Linked DNA regions of Homo sapiens: region 1 is linked to region 2. The links come from fine-mapping of genetic effects on plasma protein levels. Region 2 holds a variant in brackets. A gene starts in the other region. All regions are shown on their reverse strands. Region 1 holds the start of MFGE8 (milk fat globule EGF and factor V/VIII domain containing). Region 2 overlaps MS4A4A (membrane spanning 4-domains A4A).

Evidence for each region. PIP is the posterior inclusion probability: the model's chance that the variant is causal. The UK Biobank Pharma Proteomics Project read protein levels with antibody pairs (Olink). The fine-mapping took linkage between variants from a reference panel, not from the people measured, so its PIPs are less certain.
Region 1: it holds the start of MFGE8, and the variant in region 2 is fine-mapped to the plasma level of the MFGE8 protein (UK Biobank, PIP above 0.99).

What each region holds. Positions count from the first base shown.
Region 1 is chr15:88,912,740-88,918,104 of GRCh38, reverse strand. MFGE8 (milk fat globule EGF and factor V/VIII domain containing) reads left to right here and starts at 4,726. Exons shown (of 8, transcript NM_005928.4): 1 at 4,726-4,858. The coding sequence starts at 4,786. RefSeq lists a cis regulatory region at 46-279 and an enhancer at 4,985-5,365.
Region 2 is chr11:60,298,226-60,303,611 of GRCh38, reverse strand. It overlaps MS4A4A (membrane spanning 4-domains A4A), which reads right to left. Exons shown (of 7, transcript NM_148975.3): 4 at 2,555-2,611; 5 at 895-1,053. Among named protein-coding and RNA genes, the nearest start is that of MS4A4A, 20 kb to the right of the region's middle. The variant A/C (reference allele first, on the strand shown) is at 2,941.

The DNA.
Region 1 (5,365 bases), not on the chromosome of region 2:
ACAGGCGTGAGCCATCGCACCTGGCTTTACCAGTGTTTTTATTTGTTTACTATGTATGTATCATTAATTTAACCCCAGAGGGTGACTGGTGAGCCTTCTTGGCTCAACCCTGAAGACCATGAGGGAGCCTGTGGTTTGGGGATGGGTCATATGTCCCTGAGCAGGGCAGCTTCCTTCTCTGGGAGAAGGCTTGGTCACAGGGAGGCGACTGAAAGTAACACTGCTGATGGATCTCTTTCTACATAAAAGGTGCTGGGCTAGGGTGACAAGAATACATATGACATTATTCCATATACCAGGACTTACAATCGAGTGACAGGTATTGCGACCATCATTCCAATATGAGGCAAAGTTTGATAAGAACTATAGGAGAGACTGCAAATTTAAGAGAGACAGGTTGGGAACAGTAAATTCTAATTAGAAGACTTGATTATTATAGCTTTGTAGTAAGTTTTGGAATTGAGAAATGTTAGTCTTTCAATGTTGTTCTTTTTTTTTCCTCAAGATTGTTTTGGCTATTCTGGGTCCCTTGCATTTCCGTGTGATTTTTTTTTTTTTTTTTTTGAGACAGAGTCTCGCTCTGTCACCCAGGCTGGAGTGCAGTGGTGTGATCTCGGTTCATTGAAAGCTCTGCCTCCCAGGTTCACACCATTCTCCTGCCTCAGCCTCCCGAGTAGCTGGGACTACAGGCGGCCACCACCACACCCGGCTAATTTTTTGTATTTTTAGTAGAGACGGGGTTTCACTGTGTTAGCCAGGATGGACTCGATCTCCTGACCTTGTGATCCTCCCGCATTGGCCTCCCAAAGTGCTGGGATTACAAGCATGAGCCACTGCGCCAGGCCTCCGTATGAATTTTAGTATCAACTTGTCAATTTCCGCAAAAAGGGCAGATGGAATTTTGACAGAGATTGTATTGAGTCTGTACATCAATTTGGGGGTGTACTGGCATCTTAACAATACAAGTCTTCCAACCTATCAACAGGGGATAATTTTCCATTTGTTTAGATCTTCTTTAATTTTTTTGATGATGTTTTGTAGTGTTCAACGTACTTGTATTTCTTTTTCTTTTTTTTTTTTGAGACGAAGTCTCTCTCTGTCACCCAGGCTGGAGTGCAGTGGCACGATCTCAGCTCACTGCAACCTCTGCCTCTCAGGTTCAAGCGATTCTCCTGCCTTAGCCTCCCGAGTAGCTGGGATTACAGGTGCCAGCCACCACACCTGGCTACTTTTTGTATTTTTAGTAGGGACAGGGTTTCGCCATGTTGGTCAGGCTGGTCTTGAACTCCTGACCTCAGGTGATCCACCCACCTTGGCCTCCCAAAGTGCTGGGATAACAGGCATGAACCACCGTGCCCCGCCATGTCTTGTATTTCTTTTGTTAAATTTATTCCTAAGTATTTTATTCTTTTTAATCCTATTGTAAATGGGATTTTTAAAAATTATGTTTTTGGATTGTTTATTTCTAGTGTAAGAAATACAACTGATTTTTGTATATTAATTGTGTATCCTGCAACCTTGCTTAGCTCATTTATTATCTTTAATAGTTGTGTGTTTGTGTGTGTGTGTGTGTGTGTATGTGGATTCTTTAGGGTTGTTTTTTTTTTTTTTTTTTTGAGATGGAGTTTCGCTTTTGTTGCCCAGGCTGGAGTGCAATGGCGCGATCTTGGCTCACCGCAACCTCCGCCTCCCAGGTTCAAGCAATTCTCCTGCCTCAGCCTCCCGAGTAGCTGAGATTACAGGCATGCACCACCACGCTCAGCTAATTTTGTATTTTTAGTAGAGACGGGGTTTCTCCATGTTGAGGCTGGTCTTGAACTCCTGATCTCAGGTGATCTGCTCACCTCAGCCTCCCAAAGTGCTGGGATTACAGGCATGAGCCACTGCGCCTGGCTCTTTAGGGTTTTTGATATACAAGATCATGCCATCTGTAAGTAGAGATAGAGATAGTTTTACTGCCTCCTTTCCAATGGGGATGTATTTTCTGTTTCTTGCGTAATTGTCCTGGCTGGAACCTCCAGCACAGTGATGAAATAGAAGTGATGAGAGCAGAACACCATGTCCTATTCCTGAGCTTAGGGGAAACATTCAGTTTTTCACCATTAAGTATGATAGTAGCTATGGGTTTTTCATATATATACATATATATATATATATGTATATATATATACACATATATATACATATATATATGTATATATATATACACATATATATACATATATATATACACATATATATACACATATATATACACATATATATATACATATATATATACACATATATATATATATACATATATATATATATATACACACTTTTTTTTTTTTTTTTGAGACAGAGTCTTACTGTGTCACCCGGGCTAGAGAGCAGGGGTGCAATCTCGGCTCACTGCAACTGCCGCCTCCCAGATTCAAGCGATTCTTGTGCCTCAGCCTCTTGAGTAGCTGGGATTGCAGGTGTGCACCACCATGCCTGGTTACTTTTTGTATTTTTAGTAGGGACCAGGTTACACCATGTTGGTCAGGCTGGTCTCGAACTGCTGACCTCAGCTGATCTGCCCGCCTAAGCCTCCCAGAGTGTTGGGATTGCAGGCGTGAGCCACTGTACCCATCGGTTTTTCATAGATTTTTAAAAATCAGGTTGAGGAAGCTCCCTTTCACTTCTAGTTTGTTGAGTGTTTTATCACGAAGACGTGTTGGATATTATCAAATGCTTTTTCTGTGATTATTGAGTTGATCCTATATGTCTTTTCCCCATATATATATATATGTTTTTTTTTTTTTTAAGACGGAGTCTTGCTCTGTTGTCCAGGCTGGAGTGCAGTAGCGCGATCTCGGCTCACTGCGAGCTCCGCCTCCCGGGCTCACGCCATTCTCCTGCCTCAGCCTCCTGAGCAGCTGGGACTACAGGCACCCACCATCACGCTCGGCTAATTTTTTTTTTGTATTTTTAGTAGAGACGAGGTTTCACTGTGTTAGCCAGGATGGTCTCGATCTCCTGACCTCGTGATCCGCCTGCCTCGGCCTCCTAAAATGTTGGGATTACAGGCATGAGCCACCACGCCCAGTACCCGCTTCTGAATATTTTAAGAAGGGCATCTTGCCAGTGGACTCTAGTCCCAACTTAGGTCTCAACACAGCTAGGAGGGGAGATGTGTGACTGTTCTATTTTGTTTGTTGGCTAGTCTGACTTAAATACTTATTAGTATTAGTATTGTTATTATTTTTTGAGACAGTCTCGCTCTGTTGCCCAGGCTGGAGTGCAGTGGTGCAATCGTGGCTCACTGCAGCCTCGACCTCTTGGGATCAAGCGATCTTCCCACCTCAGCCTCCTGAGTAGCTGGGACTACAGGCATGCGCCTGGAATATTTTTGTATTTCTTTTTTTGTAGAAACAGGGTTTTGCCATGTTGCCCAGGAAGGTCTCGAACTCTTGAGCTTAAGTGATATGCCTACCTCGGCCTCCCCAAGAGCTGGCATTACAGGCTTGAGTCACCACTCCCAGCCTGAAGCATTATTATTATTATTATTATTATTATTATTATTATTATTATTAGAGACAGAGTCTCACTGTGTCACCCAGGCTGGAGTGCAGTGGCATGATCTCGGCTCACTGGGACCTCTGCCGCCTGGGTTCAAGCGATTCTCCTGCCTCAGCCTCCCGAGTAGCTGGGATTACAGGCACCTGCCACTGCGCCCGGCTAATTTTTGTATTTTTAGTAGAGACGGGGTTTCACCATCTTGGCCAGGCTGGTCTTGAACTCCGACCTCAGGTGTTCCACGTGCCTCGGCCTCCCAAAGTGCTGGGATTACAGGTGTGAGCCACCGCACCCAGCCAAAACACTATTATTAAAATCACTTATTTGTAAACAGGTAATATTTGCACATGATAAGTACAAATCATTTAGTAAAAAGTCAACGGTGACAGGCTTGCTTTGTTTTATTCCCTTTCGGCAAACAGGTGCCCATTTCCTCGCATTTTGTCTATGGTGCCTTTCTTGCAACAAAGGCAGAGATGAATAGCTGCTACAGAGACTCAGGGCCTACATATCAGAGAACATTTTCTATTAGGCCCTTTACAGAAACCTTCGCTGATTTTTTTTTTTTAGTATTTTACCATTTCAGACAATGTTGCTATGCTATCTTTGTATATCTGTCATTTTGCACATGGGAGTTTCTGTAGAATGAATCTCTCTATGTGGAAATGCTAGGTCTTAAGGTGTCAGCATTTGTCGTTTTGATAGGTGTTACCAAATAGCCCTCTAGGGAAGTTGAACTAATTTATACTGTCTTCAGCGAAGCATGCTTGGACCTGTTCCCCACAGCCTCCACTAACCTTGTTAACATCTTGATACTTGCCGATCCGAGAAGGGAAACACGATGCTCATTGTAGTTTTAATTTGCATCTATCTGATTATGAATAAAGAGTTAGCATCTTTTCAAGTCTAAAAATCTTAAAAACAAAACTCCTGAACTTTTCCCGCCCAACAGACTCAAGACTCGTGACCCGGCCGTTGGCACGACGCGGGACGCCGGTGTGGCAGTGGCGGAAGAGGCAGATATCGCGGACCACCCCCGCGCCCCCCAATTCCTTTCAACCAATTCCCTCCCAGCCGCGGAGCCCCGCCCCCAGTCCGCCTCTGGCCAGCTTGGGCGGAGCGCACGGCCAGTGGGAGGTGCTGAGCCGCCTGATTTATTCCGGTCCCAGAGGAGAAGGCGCCAGAACCCCGCGGGGTCTGAGCAGCCCAGCGTGCCCATTCCAGCGCCCGCGTCCCCGCAGCATGCCGCGCCCCCGCCTGCTGGCCGCGCTGTGCGGCGCGCTGCTCTGCGCCCCCAGCCTCCTCGTCGCCCTGGGTGAGTGGATCGCGCCGCCCTCTGCCCCTCGCCCCTCCTCCCCGCGCCGCTCGGAAGTTTGCCCGGCGCCCGCCCTCCACCTCCACTGTTGACAAACTTAGACAAAGCCCCGGGGACCGGGCTGGGCAGAGGGGCGGCTTCTTCCGCTGCGCCCTGGCGGGACAGGGGGATGCGGCCCTGCTGTCTCTGCGCTGGGGCTTTTGGGCTGGGACTCGGGACATCGGGTGACAGCCCTGCCGCCCCCAGGGATGCGGCTTACAGATAATGACAAAGGAATCCGCTGTGTCGGGCCTCTCTTTTCCCTGGTGAAAAATGAGGCCAGGGAACTGCGTTTGACTTTCGAACCCCTTCCACCTGGGAGATTCTAGGACTCTAGTATGGATAAGTCTTGTCTGGATAACTTTGTCCTGGCCATCTCCCTGCCAACTCCAGTTGGCTGGACAGTTCATTGGATTTTTGCGCTCCCAATTGTCCGTGCCTGGTCACATAAGGGAAGGGCCGGGGAGT
Region 2 (5,386 bases):
CTCAGCCCCCCGAGTAGCTGGGATCACAGGCACGTGCCATCATGCCTGGCTAATTTTTGTATTTTTAGTAGAGACGGGGCTTCATCATGTTGGCCAGGCTGGTCTTGAACTCCTGACCTCAGGTGACCCACCCACCTCATCTTCCCAAAGTGCTGGGATTACAGGCGTGAGCCACTGCGCCCTGCCAGGCTTTTTAATAATAAAGATTTAATTGTGCATTTTAGTCTGCTGTGATGTGCTGCAATAACTTTTCCTCCCCACAATTACCCAATGGCCCAAAATATCAAGAAGTTTTACTACCTACAAAATATTGTGTAGGTGGCATTTTCAGAATAAAGCAATTAGGATAGCATTAAGATAAGAACAATTGGTACAAAAAAGTAGTAAAAGTCATAATGAAGACTGAGATTTATCAGGAGCTAGATGTTGAGGATAAAAGTGGTTAACCTTGCAAGAACATCCAAAGATGTTGGAAAGGATACTGAGCTACTCACCACTTGTAAAATACTGTTCAAGACAATTTTACTTCATTATTAGAGAATAGGGACTGACATCAGGGCCCCATTTTTAGAGGGGATAACAGTACGTACTGCATCAATGTTTTAAAATTAAACAGAAAAATGTATACAAAATACCCAGCACAGTAACTATTAATGAGTAGGTATTCTATAACTATAAGCTTTCTTCCCATTTTGCCTCATGATATATAGAAGAATAAAGACAGAGATGAGACATGTACCTAACTCCTAAATGAAAGATTATTCTATTTCTCAATCACTCCAACTTCCCAAAGTCATTCATCAATTAGGGAATATTAATTATTGTCTTTGCCAGAGCCAGCACTCCCCAAACTTGCTTCTATAATAATATCCCCTGAAAAGAGGCAGTACCAACCATTAAGATGGACATAGTCCCATGACAATTATTTGAGTTGCCATAGTAGTTACAGTAAGGGTGATGGAATGAATAAAACGCCAAGCTAAATGTGTTGATTAAGATCCCTGATGCAGCCAGTACAGAGCTGGTGATATTCATTCCTAGACTACCTCGGACCTAGAAAGGAATGAAAATCAATTAAACAATCCAACAACATCCTCAGATATATCTCCATGAATCACTTTACACCCACCATCTCTTTCTTACTGCCATCTATCATTATCTTGATTATTTCAATAGTCTTCTAACTTGTCTTGTGGTTTCAACTCTAATCTCTTGGCAAAACACAAACATGATCTCATTATTCCGCAGCTTCAATTCTTCAGATGATTCCCGTGGGCACATAATATAATCTCCAAATCTCTTTAGCAGGGTTTTCAATGTCCTTCACACTTTAGCTGGACAGCCCTGTCTGTGTCCTTCCCTGCCACTCCTTGCTTCTGATGCCTGATTTCTTATCATTTTTCTAAATGCTGTTTGCCTGTCATGCCTCTATACCTTTTGTATATTATCTCTCTCAGCAGTATATTCTTTTCTGTACGTTCTCTTCTCATGGATAAAGGTAAGGAGGCTTTTAATAAGAACTAAAATTGCTGACTGGGCGCAGTGGCTCATGCCTGTAATCCCAGCATTTTGGGAGGCCGAAGCGGGGTGGATAATCTGAGGTCAGGAGTTTGAGACCAGTCTGACCAACATGGAGAAACCCTATCTCTACTAAAAATACAAAAATTAGCTGGGCGTGGTGGCACATGCCTGTGATCCCAGCTACTCGGGAGGCTAAGGCAGGAGAATCACTTGAACCTGAGAAGCGGAGGTTGCGGTGAGCCGAGATCACGCCATTGCACTCCAGCCTGGGTAATAAGAGTGAAACTCTGTCTCAAAAAACCAAAAACCAAAAACCAGAAAAAAAACAAACAAAAAAGAACTAAACTTGCACAGCAAAGTGTGAGGAGTATGAGTAATGTGGCTGCAGCCGGAGGGGACACTAGGGAGTTGGGTTAGGCCAGATTTGGAAAACCCATATTGATCATGCTCCAGAATTTGATATTTATCTTTTGAACAAAGAAAACTCAAATATGGACTTTAACTAGAAAAAAACATTTATTCAGATATGGACTTTCGCATTGTATTGGCTTTATGAAAGGCATCTTGGCATGAGAATTACATTTTAAATTTGCTTCTTATGTAATAACCTTATTGTGAATTTCTTTTATTGAAAACTCAAAATCCTTTCTGGACACAGTTGGAGTCTACATTATAATCAATGGGTCAGTAAATATTACACAACACCAATGCTTGGTGTCACTATCATGGGCTGACTCATGCTGCAGGGTTTTGTTGGAGCGGTCCCACTTGATATTTCTTCTCAATAATTCTCTATATCTTCAAAAAGATTCCCTCCACAAGCGTAAGATTCCCTACCTTGCCAAAATATCCAGTCCTATGTCAGCAATTAGCCTGACTGCAGTTTTTGAAAGACAGATTCTAGTAGGTAAAATGCACAATCGCTCCTGATTTTTTACAAACAAAGAAACAAAACCTGTTTTACACCCTGGCAGAATACATTTTTTATTAATCCTTCCTTTTTTTGATACCAAAAAAAGAAAATATTACTCACCAGGCCTTTTGTAGTTCTAATTCCTGCTGCAATTGACAAGGATCCTGAAATAATAAACTAAAAATGAGAGAAAAAATGAAGGTAAAAAACTTTAAGCCAGTATTGGGAGTCATAACTTACTAAACTTAATTCTAAATTAGATAGATATGTTAATCAGACCAATTATCTTAAAGAAAACCACAAAGGTTTGCACATTATTTTCCCTTTTCCCAGAAAGAACAGAGAAATAATACCAGATAAATCCATGGGAGAATTTATCAAGTTTTTCAAATATCTAACTGAAATGATATTAAAACTGTTTGAGGGCACTAAAAGATAGTTTCCAAACTCCTGATACAAAGTAATTCTTACATGGTACCAAAATTGATGACTATATTTAAACAAAA[A/C]ATACACTAAAATTATTCTCATTTAGAATTTTTTTTTTTTTTTTTTTTTTTTTTTTGAGACGGAGTCTCGCTCTGTCGCCCAGGCTGGAGTGCAGTGGGGCAATCTCGGCTCACTGCAAGCTCCGCCTCCCGGGTTCACGCCATTCTCCTGCCTCAGCCTCCCGAGTAGCTGGGACTACAGGAGCCCGCCACTACGCTGGGCTAATTTTTTGTGTTTTTAGTAGAGACGGGGTTTCACCGTGTTAGCCAGGATGGTCTTGATCTCCTGACCTCGTGATCCGCCCGCCTCGGCCTCCCAAAGTGCTGGGATTACAGGCGTGAGCCACTGCGCCCGGCCAATATTTTTAAACTTATAAGCAAAATAGTAGCAAAAAAATGTAAATTCCCAATTAGATGATGACTAGAATATAGTAGTTCATTTGATTCCATCAATAGGCAATTATTTTTCATTTAGCTAAAATAACTAGTCAAGTTGGTTAGACTCTCTATCTTTTAATATTCAATTGTTGGAGTTTTTAATTTGCTTTTCAAATTTGATTTCAGATGATTCAAAGATTATATCATAATATAAAAAATACAGAACTAATAAAAAAGCTCAATAAATTTATTTAACTTCCAAATACCCAGACATAGAGATGATTCATGATATCTAAATCACCACTGGAATAAAACCACTAGAGGGAATCACCCATCATATGATATAAAATACATCATGAACATTTGGGATGTTCCTTCAGCTCTACAAACATTTTTTAATATTGAAATATTCTAATTTACACAATTAATGAATTTAAGAAAAAAATTACATGCTTATTGCTATTCATGTTTACAGTGTTGATAGGCTAGGACATTTAATACAATTCAACATTATTAGTAACTGCAACATTACTGGTAAAATATAAAGAATTATTGGCAGGGCGTGGTGGCACACGCTTGTAATCCCAGCACTTTGGGAGGCTGAGGCGGGTGGATCACGAGACCAGGAGATCGAGACCACAGTGAAACCCCGTCTGTACTAAAAATACAAAAAAATTAGCCGGGTGTGGTGGCGGGTGCCTGTAGTTCCAGCTACTTGGGAGGCTGAGGCAGGAGAATGGTGAGAACCCGGGAGGCGGAGGTTGCAGTGAGCCGAGATCGTGCCATTGCACTCCAGCCTGGGTAATAAGAGCGAAACTCTGTCTCAAAAAACCAAAAACCAAAAACCAAAAAAAAAAAAAAAAAAAGAATTGTAATTTCTGTAACATGATAGAAATCTGTCTCAGTCTAAAAGTCTTTATTATGTTTAATGATAAAAATGTAGGATCATTTCATTAAAGTCAAAATCAAGATAAAGATGCTGACTATTATGTAATACTATTCTGGGTATATTTACCAAAATAATTACATAAGAAAAATAGTTGGAACAAGTGGTTTAACTATTCTTATTTAAGTATGAACAATATATATTGCAAACATTCAAGAACGTGAACTAAAAATTACCATAAACTATTCTAAAAATTCAATAAGGCACCTTGGAAAAACATTCTATACAGAAATTATATATACACATTACAAGTGTGTATGTATGTCTGTGTATTTGAAGATGGGATTGAATAAGAGGACTTCATTTGCCACAGGAAAAAGTATGTATGTACTATCTCAGAGGAAAAAACAAGGAATGTGAAACATATACAGAAACAGAACTGAAGAGGCCAAAAATAAGAGGAACTTGTGACTGGTTCTTGGTATTGGTACTTATACTGTATGAAAGAGAAAAAGGAGGCACTTCATAGAAGAGGTTTGGAAAAAAAGGTTGAAAGAATAATGGAAGGTAGCCGCAGAAAAGAGTTCACCAATTAAGTAAAGGCTCATCTAATGGAACACCTACGAAAGTCTCAGTGATGTCTCAGCGGACAAATGGCTCCTGCAGTTCCTGGTAATCTACTGAACATGTGTGGAAGGCTTGCACCATGTAAGCTGGTTTTTAATGTGATCTTGAAAAGGAAACGGAAATAAAAACAGAAAACTAAGTAGTTAGATGTATGCAATTCTGAAAATACATTGACCCTATTTGAATCTTCATTCCTGTACCAAGCAGTTGTGATGTTGGGTTAGTTACTTAACCTCTCTTCATCCATAAAATGATTATAATGAAAAATCAGAAGTTCGTGGTGATTGTTTGAAATGAAATTGCACATATAAAGCACTAAGTAGAGTGTCCACATGATAGTAAGAGTTTAATAAGAGCTGTTATTGGCATCAGTATTTTTGGATATATGAAGTATTGTGCAGCTTTCTAGAAGTAAAACACAGCTTTACTGTTCTTCCAATCTTGCACTTCTGCTGTAAACAGGTGAAGGGGATCAAAAAGCAAGCTCTTCTATAAAACTCTACACTACCTCATTCTCAGTTTTAGAAATAAATGGAAACCCTGCAATGCTAGAATAGATTCCCTGATTCTAACATA